Linked DNA regions of Homo sapiens. The protein of the gene in region 3 purifies or fractionates together with the protein of the main gene of each other region. This does not show direct contact. Each region holds a gene or a part of one and is shown on either strand. Other genes may lie near its edges. The genes, in order: DPF2, BCL7A and ARID1A.

Region 1 (3,651 bases), on a different chromosome or scaffold from region 3:
ATCTTTGTAGTACTGCTCCCCAAGGCTGCAGGGAAGATAGAAATCAGGCGTGTATGTTGGAGCGGGGGGCATAGGGTGCTGAGCTATTCCTCTCCCCTGCCATCTGCTTCTCTAGAAGGCTCAAGGGACTGGGTGGCTGTCTCTTCCGTTCTATTTGCCTCCACTTCTGCCTCATGGGACACGAAGCCCCTTTTCTAGGCCATCATGAGGAATTACTTTACAAATAAATTACCATCAGGAACACATGATTTCATCATATGTCTAATCAGACTTAAGTTTAACCCCCAAAGAGGTGAAAGAATGTTCACTCCACGTGTCTCACAAGCCCACCCCTGTGCTAGTTAAGATGCTATTTCTCTTAACCCTTATGAGGCTAAGAAGCAGATGATAGTCCCTCCTAAGTTCCTCCTTATTCCCTCTTTCCTAGAATCACCTCCCAAATAAACTACATGCTCCCACATCCTTGCCCCAAGGTCTGCTCCAGAGGGAAAGAGTTCAAAGTCTAGGGGACTTATTAAAATGTATTTAGCAAACTATGGTAAATCCATACAATGAAATTCTACTTAGCCATAAGAAGGAAGCTCTTCACATACTGATATTAAACAATTTCAAGTTAACTAGGGACAAAAAGCAAAGCAAGGTACACTGCTGAGAAGCGTCAAATAAAACTATCATTTATGTAACAAAATGGAAAAGAAACTGCAGGTCAGCGGGGAGAAAAAGTGGGTGACTAGGCCACTTCCTTCCATATGCCTTTTTATATCTTTTGAATTTTGAACTAGGTTTTTAATCAACTAATTAATTTTACATTTATGGAAGATGTCTACAAGTACCTGAAGTTCCTTGAAGCTTTTATTGAGCACCATCACTCATAAGAAACTTGTTTGCTCTAAGGCCCATCTTAGGGTTCTTCTCCATTCTCACAAAATAAAATTATATAGGAAAAAATCTTCTTGGTCTCAAAAGACTCAATTTGAAATCTGAATCAAGGGTAAATCTTTAAGTGGAAAACTGGAAAACTGCACAGTGCCAGGAGTTATCTGGTTCTAAGAAGCGTGTATATAGAACCTATCTTGTTCTCATCTTGCAGGGTTTAACAAGGACTTTGGTAATGGAGGTTAACAAACTCGATCTTATATTCAATCAATCTTGTTTTTTTTTTTTTTTAAGAGACAAGGTCTCACTATGTTGCCCAAGCTGGACACAAACTCCTGGCTCAAGTGATCCTCCTGCCTTAGCCTCCCAAGTATCTGGGAATAGAGGCATGTGTCACAGTACCTGGCGTCAATCAATCTTAAACCAAGGGCAGAATTGATTTATTTCTCATAGTATCCCTAATACTCATGACGATGTCTGAGATACAGTCAGACTTGACTTGAGAGTAAAAAGACCTGGCTTGCCTGCAAGTCACACGAACATGGACACTTAGTCAGCCCAGGTGGACCTTGGTTACTCTTCTATAGATTGAGGAGGTTGGACCAAATGAGCTTTGACATATCAGGATTTTACAAGAAACAGCCTGGGGATGAGACAGCAAACAGATTAAGTCTCTGTGGTTTCTGTCCGTAACTCGGGCTACACCAACAAACCCTGCTCTAGAATGTGACAGGGTCCTTCAGTGAGCAGCCACAATAGACCACTGCATAACTTAGCATGTGCCCAGCAAGTAAAAAAGACACATACGACACACAGAGACGGCAATGCCACAAATATAGCCTGGCGTGATTCAATGAGCTGTAATGACTGTAATCTGAGGTAGGCACGAATCTCACGTTGGAGAGCAGAATGGAGAAGGCAGCCTTGCCTCTGTGGGCTCGCCTTTAGGAGGCAGCCACGTCTTCACCACACAGAATAAAATTGGATAAACAAGGTTGAGTGCGGCAGCTCCTTTGTTTCTGCTGATGGGAATTGATACGGACACTGGAAGTCAAATGGAAGGCAGGGCCAGGCTGGCGAGTGCTGCAAAGTCAGAGCAAGGAGGCTGGAAACAGTTTTGCGGGGAATGAATGAGAGATGTTCTGTCAGGGCTCTTGTGAGCTACATAAGGCAGGCAAACAGTCTTGGGGGTAAAAGGGCTGGGAAGGAAACACTGAAGTGTGGGGGGAGAATCTCATGAAGAGAGAACAAGACAGCATGACAGTGAGCTCTTAAGAACTTAAGGGAGGCCGGGCACAGTAGCTCATGCTTATAATCCCAGCACTTTGGGAGGCCAAGGCTGGTGGATCTCTTGAGACCAAGAGTTAGAGACCAGCTTGGGCAACATAGTGAGATCCCATCTCTACAAAACGTTAAAAAATAAAAATAAAAAAGGCCTGGCGCAGTGGCTCACGCCTGTAATCCCAGCACTTTGGGAGACTGAGGTGGACGGATCACCTGAGGTCAGGAGTTCGAGACCAGCCTCAACATGGAGAAACCCTGTCTCTACTAAAAATACAAAATTAGCCGGGCGTGGTGGTACATGACCATAATCCCAGCTACGGGGGAGGCTGAGGCAGAAGAATTGCTTGAACCTGGGAGGCGGAGGTTGCGGTGAGCCGAGATTGCGCCATTGCACTCCAGCCTGGGCAACAAGAGCGAAACTCTGTCTCAAAAAAAATAAAATTAAAAAAAACAAAACAAACAAACAAAAAAACCATCAGCTAGGCTTAGTGATGCATGCCTGTGGTTCCACGTAGCCCCTGGGGCGGATGAGGTAGGGGAATCATTTGAGCCTAGGAAGTTGAGGGTGCAGTAAACCAAGGTTATACCACTGCACTTCAGCCTGGGGGACAGAGGGAGGCTCTGTCTCTTAAAACAAAAAAAAGCAATAACAAAAACTTAAGGCTCCGATACCAAGAAATGTCAAGTTAACATTAACATTGTTCTCTCTCTCTCTCTCTCTCTCTCTCTCTCTCTCTCTCTCTCTATATATATATATATATATATATATATATATTTTTTTTTTTTTTTTTTTTTTTGAGATAGAGTCTTGCTTTGCCGCCCAGGTTAGAATGCAGTGGTGCAATCTCGGCTCACTGCAGCTTCTGCCTACTGCAGCTTCTGCCTCCCGGGTTCCAACGATTCTCTTGCCTCAGGCTCCCGAGTGGCATGCGCCACCACGCCCAGCTAATTTTTGTATTCTTAGTAGAGACAGGGTTTCACCATGTTGGCCAAGCTGGTCTCGAACTCCTGACCTCATGATCCGCCCACCTCGGCCTTCCAAAGTTCTGGGATTACAGGTGTAAGCCACCGCGCCCTGCCTCTAGATTTTGCCTAGAAAGTTTCAAAACCAATCAGCAGCTACAGCTATACTATTATTTTACTTTCCTAGTAAGAACGCTTAAAGACTTTCTCTCTTTTTTTGAGACGGAGTCTCGCTCTGTCGCCTGGGCTGGAGTGCAGTGGTGTGATCTCTCCTGGGTTCAAGCGATTCTTCTGCCTCAGCCTCCTGAGTAGCTGGGACTACAGGTGCACGCCACCATGCCCAGCTAATTTTTGTATTTTTACTAGAGACGGGTTTCACCACCTTGGCCAGGCTGGTCTCAAACTCCTGACCTTGTGATCCGCCCGCCTCAGCCTCCCAAAGTGCTGGGATTACAGGCATGAGCCACCGTGCCCGGCTTCTTTTTTTTTTTTTTTTTTTTTGAGATGGAGTCTTGCTGTTGCCAGGCT
Region 2 (3,651 bases), on a different chromosome or scaffold from region 3:
TGGCCAGCCTGGTCTCGAACTCTTGGCCTCAGGTGATCTGCCCACCTCAGCCTACCAAAGTGCTGGGATTACAGGTGTGAGCCATCACACCCGGCCACTAGCTGTGTATTTTTTATATGTGAATTATATTTTAATTACAAAAATCTAACACATTGAAAAAATAGATGAGACAAATGTGGCACCGTGTTCATGAAAATCAAGGTGGAGTGTACAGGGGGATCGTATTCCTCTCTCTACTGTTCTTGACAACAAAACCCTTCACAATACAAAGAAGAAAGAGAAGGGGTAATTGGGCAATGGCATTTACAGTTGGGCTGGGGGCAGAGCTGGGGCCCGGGCTGCACCTCCCCTTGTCCTGCACCCCCTTCTCAGGCACAGAGTCACTCTATTTATTTTTTTGAGATGGAGTCTGTCACCCAGGCTGGAGTGCGGTGGCGCGATCTCGGCTCACTATAATCTCCACCTCCTGGTTCAAGCGATTCTCATGCCTCAGCCTCCCAGGTAGCTGGGATTACAGGCATGCACCAACATGCCCAGTTAACTTTTGTTTTTATTATTTTTTAGTAGAGACGGGGTTTCGCCATGTTGGTCAGGCTTGCTCTTGAACTCCTGACCTCAGGTGATCTGCCCGCTTCAACCTCCCAAAGTGCTGGGATTACAGGAGTAAGCCACCACACCCAGCCATTTATGTATTTTTTATTTTTAGAGACAGGGTCTTGCTCTGTTGCCCAGGCTGGAGTACAGCAGCACAATCATAGCTCACTGCAGCCTCGAACTCCTAGGCTCAAGCCATCCTCCTGCCTCTGCCTCCTGAGTAGCTGGGGCCACAGGCATGTGCCACTGCATCTGGCTAATTTTTAAGTTTTTTGTAGAGATGGGGTCTCACTATGTTGCCCAGGCTGTCTTGGACCCCTGGGCTCAAGTGATCCTCCTGTCTTGGCCTCCCAAAGCACTGAGATCATAGGCCTGAGCCACTGTGCCCAACCTAGGAGAGTCGTTTTAAACAGCAGAGACCCAAGTGGAGGTTTCAAAACCAAAGCAGCCTTTCTGGGGGCCATGCTGCACCCGGGGCGATGGCCACTTTTGTAAACATGAGAAAGAGACAGAGACACCCCAACAGACCTGGGCACCTGCCACCATGCCAGGCACTGGGCAGAAGCATTTATGGACACCTCGTGGAATCCTCCCCACAACCCGTTGGAAAGGCACCGTTACCACCTTCACTTTCCGGAGGGGGAAACTGAGGCTGGGAGCAGCAGAGCCACTTGCCGGACCCATCTGCCCAACTCCCAGCCCCACGCCCCTCCTCTACCTCAACCTGCCGAGGAAGCACCAGGCAGTCAGGCGGCCCCACACGGGTAACCTGGATCTGATTTTAACTGTACTCTGGGGTGCTCGTTACACAAAAGCATCCTCTTGTGAATTCTGGGACTTAAAAAAAAAAAAGAAGGATGTGTGCTCCCCGATTTCTCCCTTGAGAAAAACTAGACTTCCTTCCTATGGCAAGCACACGCGCAAGAGGCTGGCCCCGTAGGTTCCTGAGGCTCTGTTAATGAATGACAATGAGCACTAATGTTTAACGTCTGGTCTAGCCTGGTAGCCTGGTAACAGCGTGACCCTGATACTTGGGCTAACTTCAGCTGAGTCTTGTGGACTAAAGGGCCCGGGGCACCGCCCTCTCCTTCATCCCCTGCTGTACCCATCCTCCCACTTGAAGCCTTCCAGAAAACTTGCCCGGCCCACACCTTTCCCTGACCTTCCCATTTACACACTCTGCAGTCTGACTGGCTTTCGGCTGCACGTGCACTAAAATGAAAATCAGAAAGTCAACAGGGCACCTGTGTCTGGGGACCTGGTTTGTTCAGCATCCTAGATTTTTCTGGAGAGTTTATCCAGGTCACAAATCTGGATCTTTTGGTTTTTTTTTTTTTTTTTTGGAGACACGGCCTCACTCTCTTGCCCAGGCTGGAGTGCAGTGGTGCAATCTTGGCTCACTGCAACCTCCCCTTCCCGATTCAAGGGATTTTCCTGCCTCAGCCTCCCGAGTAGCTGGGATTACAGGTGCCCACCACCATGCCCGGCTAATTTTTGTATTTTTAGTAGAGATGGGGTTTCACCATTGTTTGGCCAGGCTGCTCTCCAACTCCTGACCTTAAACGATCCTCACAACTTGGCCTCCCAAAGTCCTAGGATTATGGGTGTGAGCCACCACGGCCAGCCACAAACCTGGATTCTGTCTTCAAAGAACCAACCTCAAATGCCATCAATGGCACTGGAAGTTATGAACTTGCTAACCATGCATGTTACTTCACCTCACTGGGCCTTAGTTTCTCCATCTGTAAAATGCGGTTGGTTATTAGACTCAAATGAGGCAATGATGTAACGGGCTTAGCACAATACTTGGCACATTGTGACGGTTTCATAAATGTGAGCTGTTAACATGCCAAGGTTTTTAAAATTTTTATTATAGGCTGGGCACAGTGGATCATGCCTATACTCCCAGCACTTTGGGAGGTTGAGGGAGGAGGATTGCTTGAACTCAGGAGTTTGGAAACAGCCTGGGCAACATAGCAAGACCCTGTCTCTATTTTTGAATACAGTAAAATAATTTTTTTTTTTTATGGAGTCTTGCTCTGTCGCCCAGGCTGGAATGCAGTGGCATGATCTCAGCTCACTGCAACCTTTGCCTCCAGGTTCAAGTGATTCTCCTGCCTCAGCCTCCCAAGTAGCTGGGATTACAGGCGTGTGCCACCACACCCAATAATTTTTGTATTTTTAGTAGAGATGGGATTTTACCATAGAGACCAGGCTGGTCTCCAACTCCTGACTTCAAATGATCCTCCCATCTCGGCCTCCTAAAGTGCTGGGATGACAGGCATGAGCCACCACACCTGGCCCAAAATAAAATATTTACTATAATTATATTATATATTATATTATATAATATATATAATATATATATTATATATATATATATATTTAAGAGATGGGGTCTTGCTCTGTTGCCCAGAGTGGAATGCAGTGGTGCAATTACTGTTCACTGCAGCCTCCAACTCCCAGGTTCAAATGATCCTCAGCCTCCAGAGTAGCTGTGACTATAGGTGCGCATCACCACAACCTGCTAATTTAAATTTATTATTATTATTATTTTTTTTTTTAATCTATTTTTTTTTAGACTGAGTCTTGCTCTGTCGCCCAGGCTGTAGTGCAGTGGCGTGATCTTGGCTCACTGAAAGCTCCACCTCCCAGGTTCACGCCATTCTCTTGCCTCAGCCTCCCGAGTAGCTGGGACTACAGGCACCAGCCACCACGCCTGGCTAATTTTTTTGTATTTTTAGTAGAGATGGGGTTTCACCGTGTTAGCCAGGATGGTCTCGATCTCCCAACCTCATGATCTGCCCGCCTTGGCCTCCCAGAATGCTGGGACTATAGATACGAACCACCTATTGTTTTTTTTGTAGAGATGAGGTCTCCCTGTGTTGCCCAGGCTGGTCTCAAACTCCTGGGCTCAAGTGATCCTCCTAACTCGGCCTCCCAAAGTGCTGGGATTACAGGTGTGAGCCACTGTGCTTGGTCCCATGCCAAGGTTTTTAAGAGATTATTTAATTTAATCCTCACAGTGAGTTTATGAAGTAGGCATTACCATCCCCA
Region 3 (3,651 bases):
TCTCCCTTCAGGCTTTATTCCCCTCCCCCACAAAGGAAAACAAAACAAAATAAGACACGTGCATACTGCCACATAACTGGCATGAGAAGCAAAGCCACGGAAGGCTTTTGAGGTGACTCCATGCATATTCCTGCCATTCTCCCTGATACTCAGATCTCATAGTCAAGCCTTCCCTGTCTATAGGGAAAGGGAGCATTGGGTTAGGTTTCGCTCACTTCTGATTGGGTGGGCTTCAGGGTTCACTGAACCTAGGATGAGGTACAGAGAGAATTCTAATGCCTGAGCCTGTCTTCCAGATTGGAAAAGGATGCAAACCTTTAAAATGCCGTGATTGTAACTGAACTTTTATAAAGGCAGTGATAATTCAGGGGCAAAAGAGTGCTATTTATAAGTTAGTTTGTGAAGGCTCCAAGAAAGCAAAGCTGAATCTTGAGCTTATCTAAAGGATTAGTAGGGTTTAGGTGGAAGAGTGGCCAATCCAGTAGACTGGCCTAGATGCCACGGAGATGGGAGAGAGTCTAGATATTTCCCACCAAGGCCATCTCCAACCATGAAGACTTAGCTCAGGTGTTACCCACTCTAAGAAGTATTCCTAGTCACCTCTGCCCCTCTAGGTTGTCCCCCTCTGTGCCTCTTTAAACTCTTCTTTCTAGTATCATAGGTATCATATCAGCAGACATTACAACCTATTGAACTTCCTTTGTGTATAGGGACTTGAAAACCCTTGTTCCCAGGCCTTGGGGGAACAGGCTTACCATATGGTAGATGAATAAGCATAAGAATACATGAAGAAGGAGACCTGTCCAGCTAGAGCAGAAAGACTAATTGTAGGGAGCATCTGGGGAATGGGCTTGGTCAGTGTGCCCTGAAGCTGAGGGAAGGAGGCAGAACTGTAGGTTGGCTGCTCGGGAGGTACAAAAGTCATAATAAGGCCCCGGGCCAGGCGCAGTGGCTCACACCTGTAATCCCAGCACTTTGGGAGGCCGAGACGGGCGGATCATCTGAGGTCAGGAGTTTGAGACCAGCCTGGCCAACATGGCCAAACCTTGTCTCTACTAAAAATATAAAAATCAGTGGGGTGTGGTGACAGGCACCTGTGGTCCCACTACTTGGGAGGCTAAGGCAGGAGAATCACTTGAACACGGGAGGCGGAGGTTGCAGTGAGCCGAAATGGCGTCACTACACTCGAGCCTGGGTGACAGAGTGAGACTCTGTCTCTAAATAAATAAGACCCTGAACACCCGGACCATCAGGACAGTGACTGGTAAGGGAAAGGGACCTGTGGTTATTTGTCAATGAGATATGTAGGGGAGCAGTGGCACAAGAATGTCAAATTTGCAGGGAGCCACCACCCCAAGAAAAAAATATGAGTAAATCCCAAGTTTGACAAAGCAAGTCAAGCAGGGTGGTCACTGATATTATCATGAGTCTCCATTTTATAAAATGTTAGTTTTTATTAGTGCATCTAAAATAGGATTTAGGGCCAGGCGCGGTGGCTCACGCCTGTAATCCCAACACTTTGGGAGGCTGAGGCGGGTAGATGACTTGACGCCAGGAGTTTGAGACCAGCCTGATCAACATGGTGAAACCCCGTCTCTACTAAAAATACAAAAATTAGCCAGGCGTGGTGGTGCACACCTGTAATCCCAGCTACTCGGGAGGCTGAGATAAGAGAATCGCTTGAGCCCGGGAGGCAGAGGTTACAGCGAGCCAAGATCACGCCACTGCACTCCAGCCTAGGCGACAGAGCGAGATTTATTTTTTCTGTCTCAAAAATAAATAAATAAAATAGGATTTAGATATCCAGATGATTTGTACACCACTTTTTAGCAGCGTACTAAAAAACCGGACTCTGAATTCTGTTCCAGTAGTAATGTGAAATTTGCCCTGTTGTGAATAAGCACAGTCTGATAGTTGCAGTGGAACATCCTGAGGGTAAAATGAAGCCAGCTGCAGATTTAACACTTCTTGTGGACTATCCACCAAGCAAGATTAACTTTTTCAATTACCTAAGAACTGTGGTTCTACAAAGATGAATACCTTACAGCCTGATGGGGCTTGGGGCTTATGGGCAGGAAAACCAGGCGGGAGATATACCTCGACTCCTTTGGTTTGGTTATACAGGTCAACAAGAACAAAAAATGGCGGGAACTTGCAACCAACCTCAATGTGGGCACATCAAGCAGTGCTGCCAGCTCCTTGAAAAAGCAGTATATCCAGTGTCTCTATGCCTTTGAATGCAAGATTGAACGGGGAGAAGACCCTCCCCCAGACATCTTTGCAGCTGCTGATTCCAAGAAGTCCCAGCCCAAGATCCAGCCTCCCTCTCCTGGTAAGGATGGGGTCAGCGGCCCCACCAAGGCTGAGAGGGCCTGTTGCCCTGGCCTCTTATTCAGGATATGAATAAGAGGCTTATCCAACAGGATATGCCAAGGATCTGTGCTCTGCCTTGCCCTACCACAGGGCTTAACAGGTTGGCTGACTAGAGAGTGGGCAGTGGAAACTCCCTTGGGAGGTACTCTACGGCAGCTCTTAAGTTTTAATTTTTGTTGTGCAGCTGACAACTTGCCAAATGTTTGTAAACTGGTGAATGGGAGGGGCACAAGAGGAGTCGGTGGAACTTATAAATGGCAGCAAGGCAGGGCCATCTGGGAGCTTTGGCCTATTGATGTCAGCACCTTAGAATGCAGCTCAGACTAGAGCCCTGAATTCCCCAGGGAGCTGAGATGGTAATGAATGGGAAGGAGGGAGTGGGGAAGGGTTATGAATGGAACTCCCTGATGGGAGTGGCTCTGCTCACCCTCCTTTCTGAGAGGAGGCTGAGGCCTAGGGTGAGCCTAGAGAGGGAAGAAGGCCAGGGTGCCTGGAAGGTGGGTGTAAACACATGTGCCCTGGTGTTGACCTCTGAGGGTGTAATGAGTGCCTGAGATGACTCATCAGCTGGGGAGGCCTCAGCAGTGGGATATCTACTGCTGGGAATGGTAACTATTGGAAACATTAATTACTAGTAGTTTTGTACTCATCAGCTTAGAAGAACATTTGAAGTTGAGGAGTGACACCATGCTGGATGCTTTAGAACAGGAGCTCCTAGACTCCTAAAATGCATCCCAGATTTGGGACCCCCTTCCCACCCAGGACTTGGGAGGCTCTGACTGGAGCTCATGCACCAGCATTACAGGGTTTAGTAGGTTAGACAAGGTCCTTTGGCGGAGTGAAGAGAAATAGCCAGGGAAGCTGGCAATGACTCAGGGAATCACCAGCATGGTGATGTCATGGCCACATCACTCCTCTTTTCTACACGTAAAACAAAAACAAAGAGCTACAAAACCCTCAGATTCCCGTCTTTATGACCTGGCCTTGTAGATCCTCTGCTAAGAAGGGTGATCAGGCTTTAAAGGCCTTAGGAAGAACTTTCCCAAAGAGATTCTGGGTCGTTCGTGTGTTTGTGTGAGAGTTAAACACTGTCATGCCAAGCAAACTACTCAACTTGTATCTCTGTCCACAGCGGGATCAGGATCTATGCAGGGGCCCCAGACTCCCCAGTCAACCAGCAGTTCCATGGCAGAAGGAGGAGACTTAAAGCCACCAACTCCAGCATCCACACCACACAGTCAGATCCCCCCATTGCCAGGCATGAGGTAAGGCCAAGAG

What was found.
Region 1: the proteins of ARID1A (region 3) and DPF2 purify together in Homo sapiens (affinity purification with mass spectrometry; 8 studies listed by BioGRID and IntAct, with this or other methods). This does not show direct contact.
Region 2: the proteins of ARID1A (region 3) and BCL7A purify together in Homo sapiens (affinity purification with mass spectrometry; 6 studies listed by BioGRID and IntAct, with this or other methods). This does not show direct contact.

Annotation. Positions count from the first base shown.
Region 1 is NC_000011.10:65,336,759-65,340,409, reverse strand, and holds part of DPF2 (zinc finger protein ubi-d4), read right to left. Parts: intron 26-3,651; coding exon 1-25. UniProt on the Homo sapiens protein: Plays an active role in transcriptional regulation by binding modified histones H3 and H4. Is a negative regulator of myeloid differentiation of hematopoietic progenitor cells. Might also have a role in the development and maturation of lymphoid cells.
Region 2 is NC_000012.12:122,038,818-122,042,468, reverse strand, and holds part of BCL7A (B-cell CLL/lymphoma 7 protein family member A), read right to left. Parts: intron 1-3,651.
Region 3 is NC_000001.11:26,768,995-26,772,645, forward strand, and holds part of ARID1A (AT-rich interactive domain-containing protein 1A), read left to right. Parts: intron 1-2,124; coding exon 2,125-2,332; intron 2,333-3,505; coding exon 3,506-3,638; intron 3,639-3,651. UniProt on the Homo sapiens protein: Involved in transcriptional activation and repression of select genes by chromatin remodeling (alteration of DNA-nucleosome topology).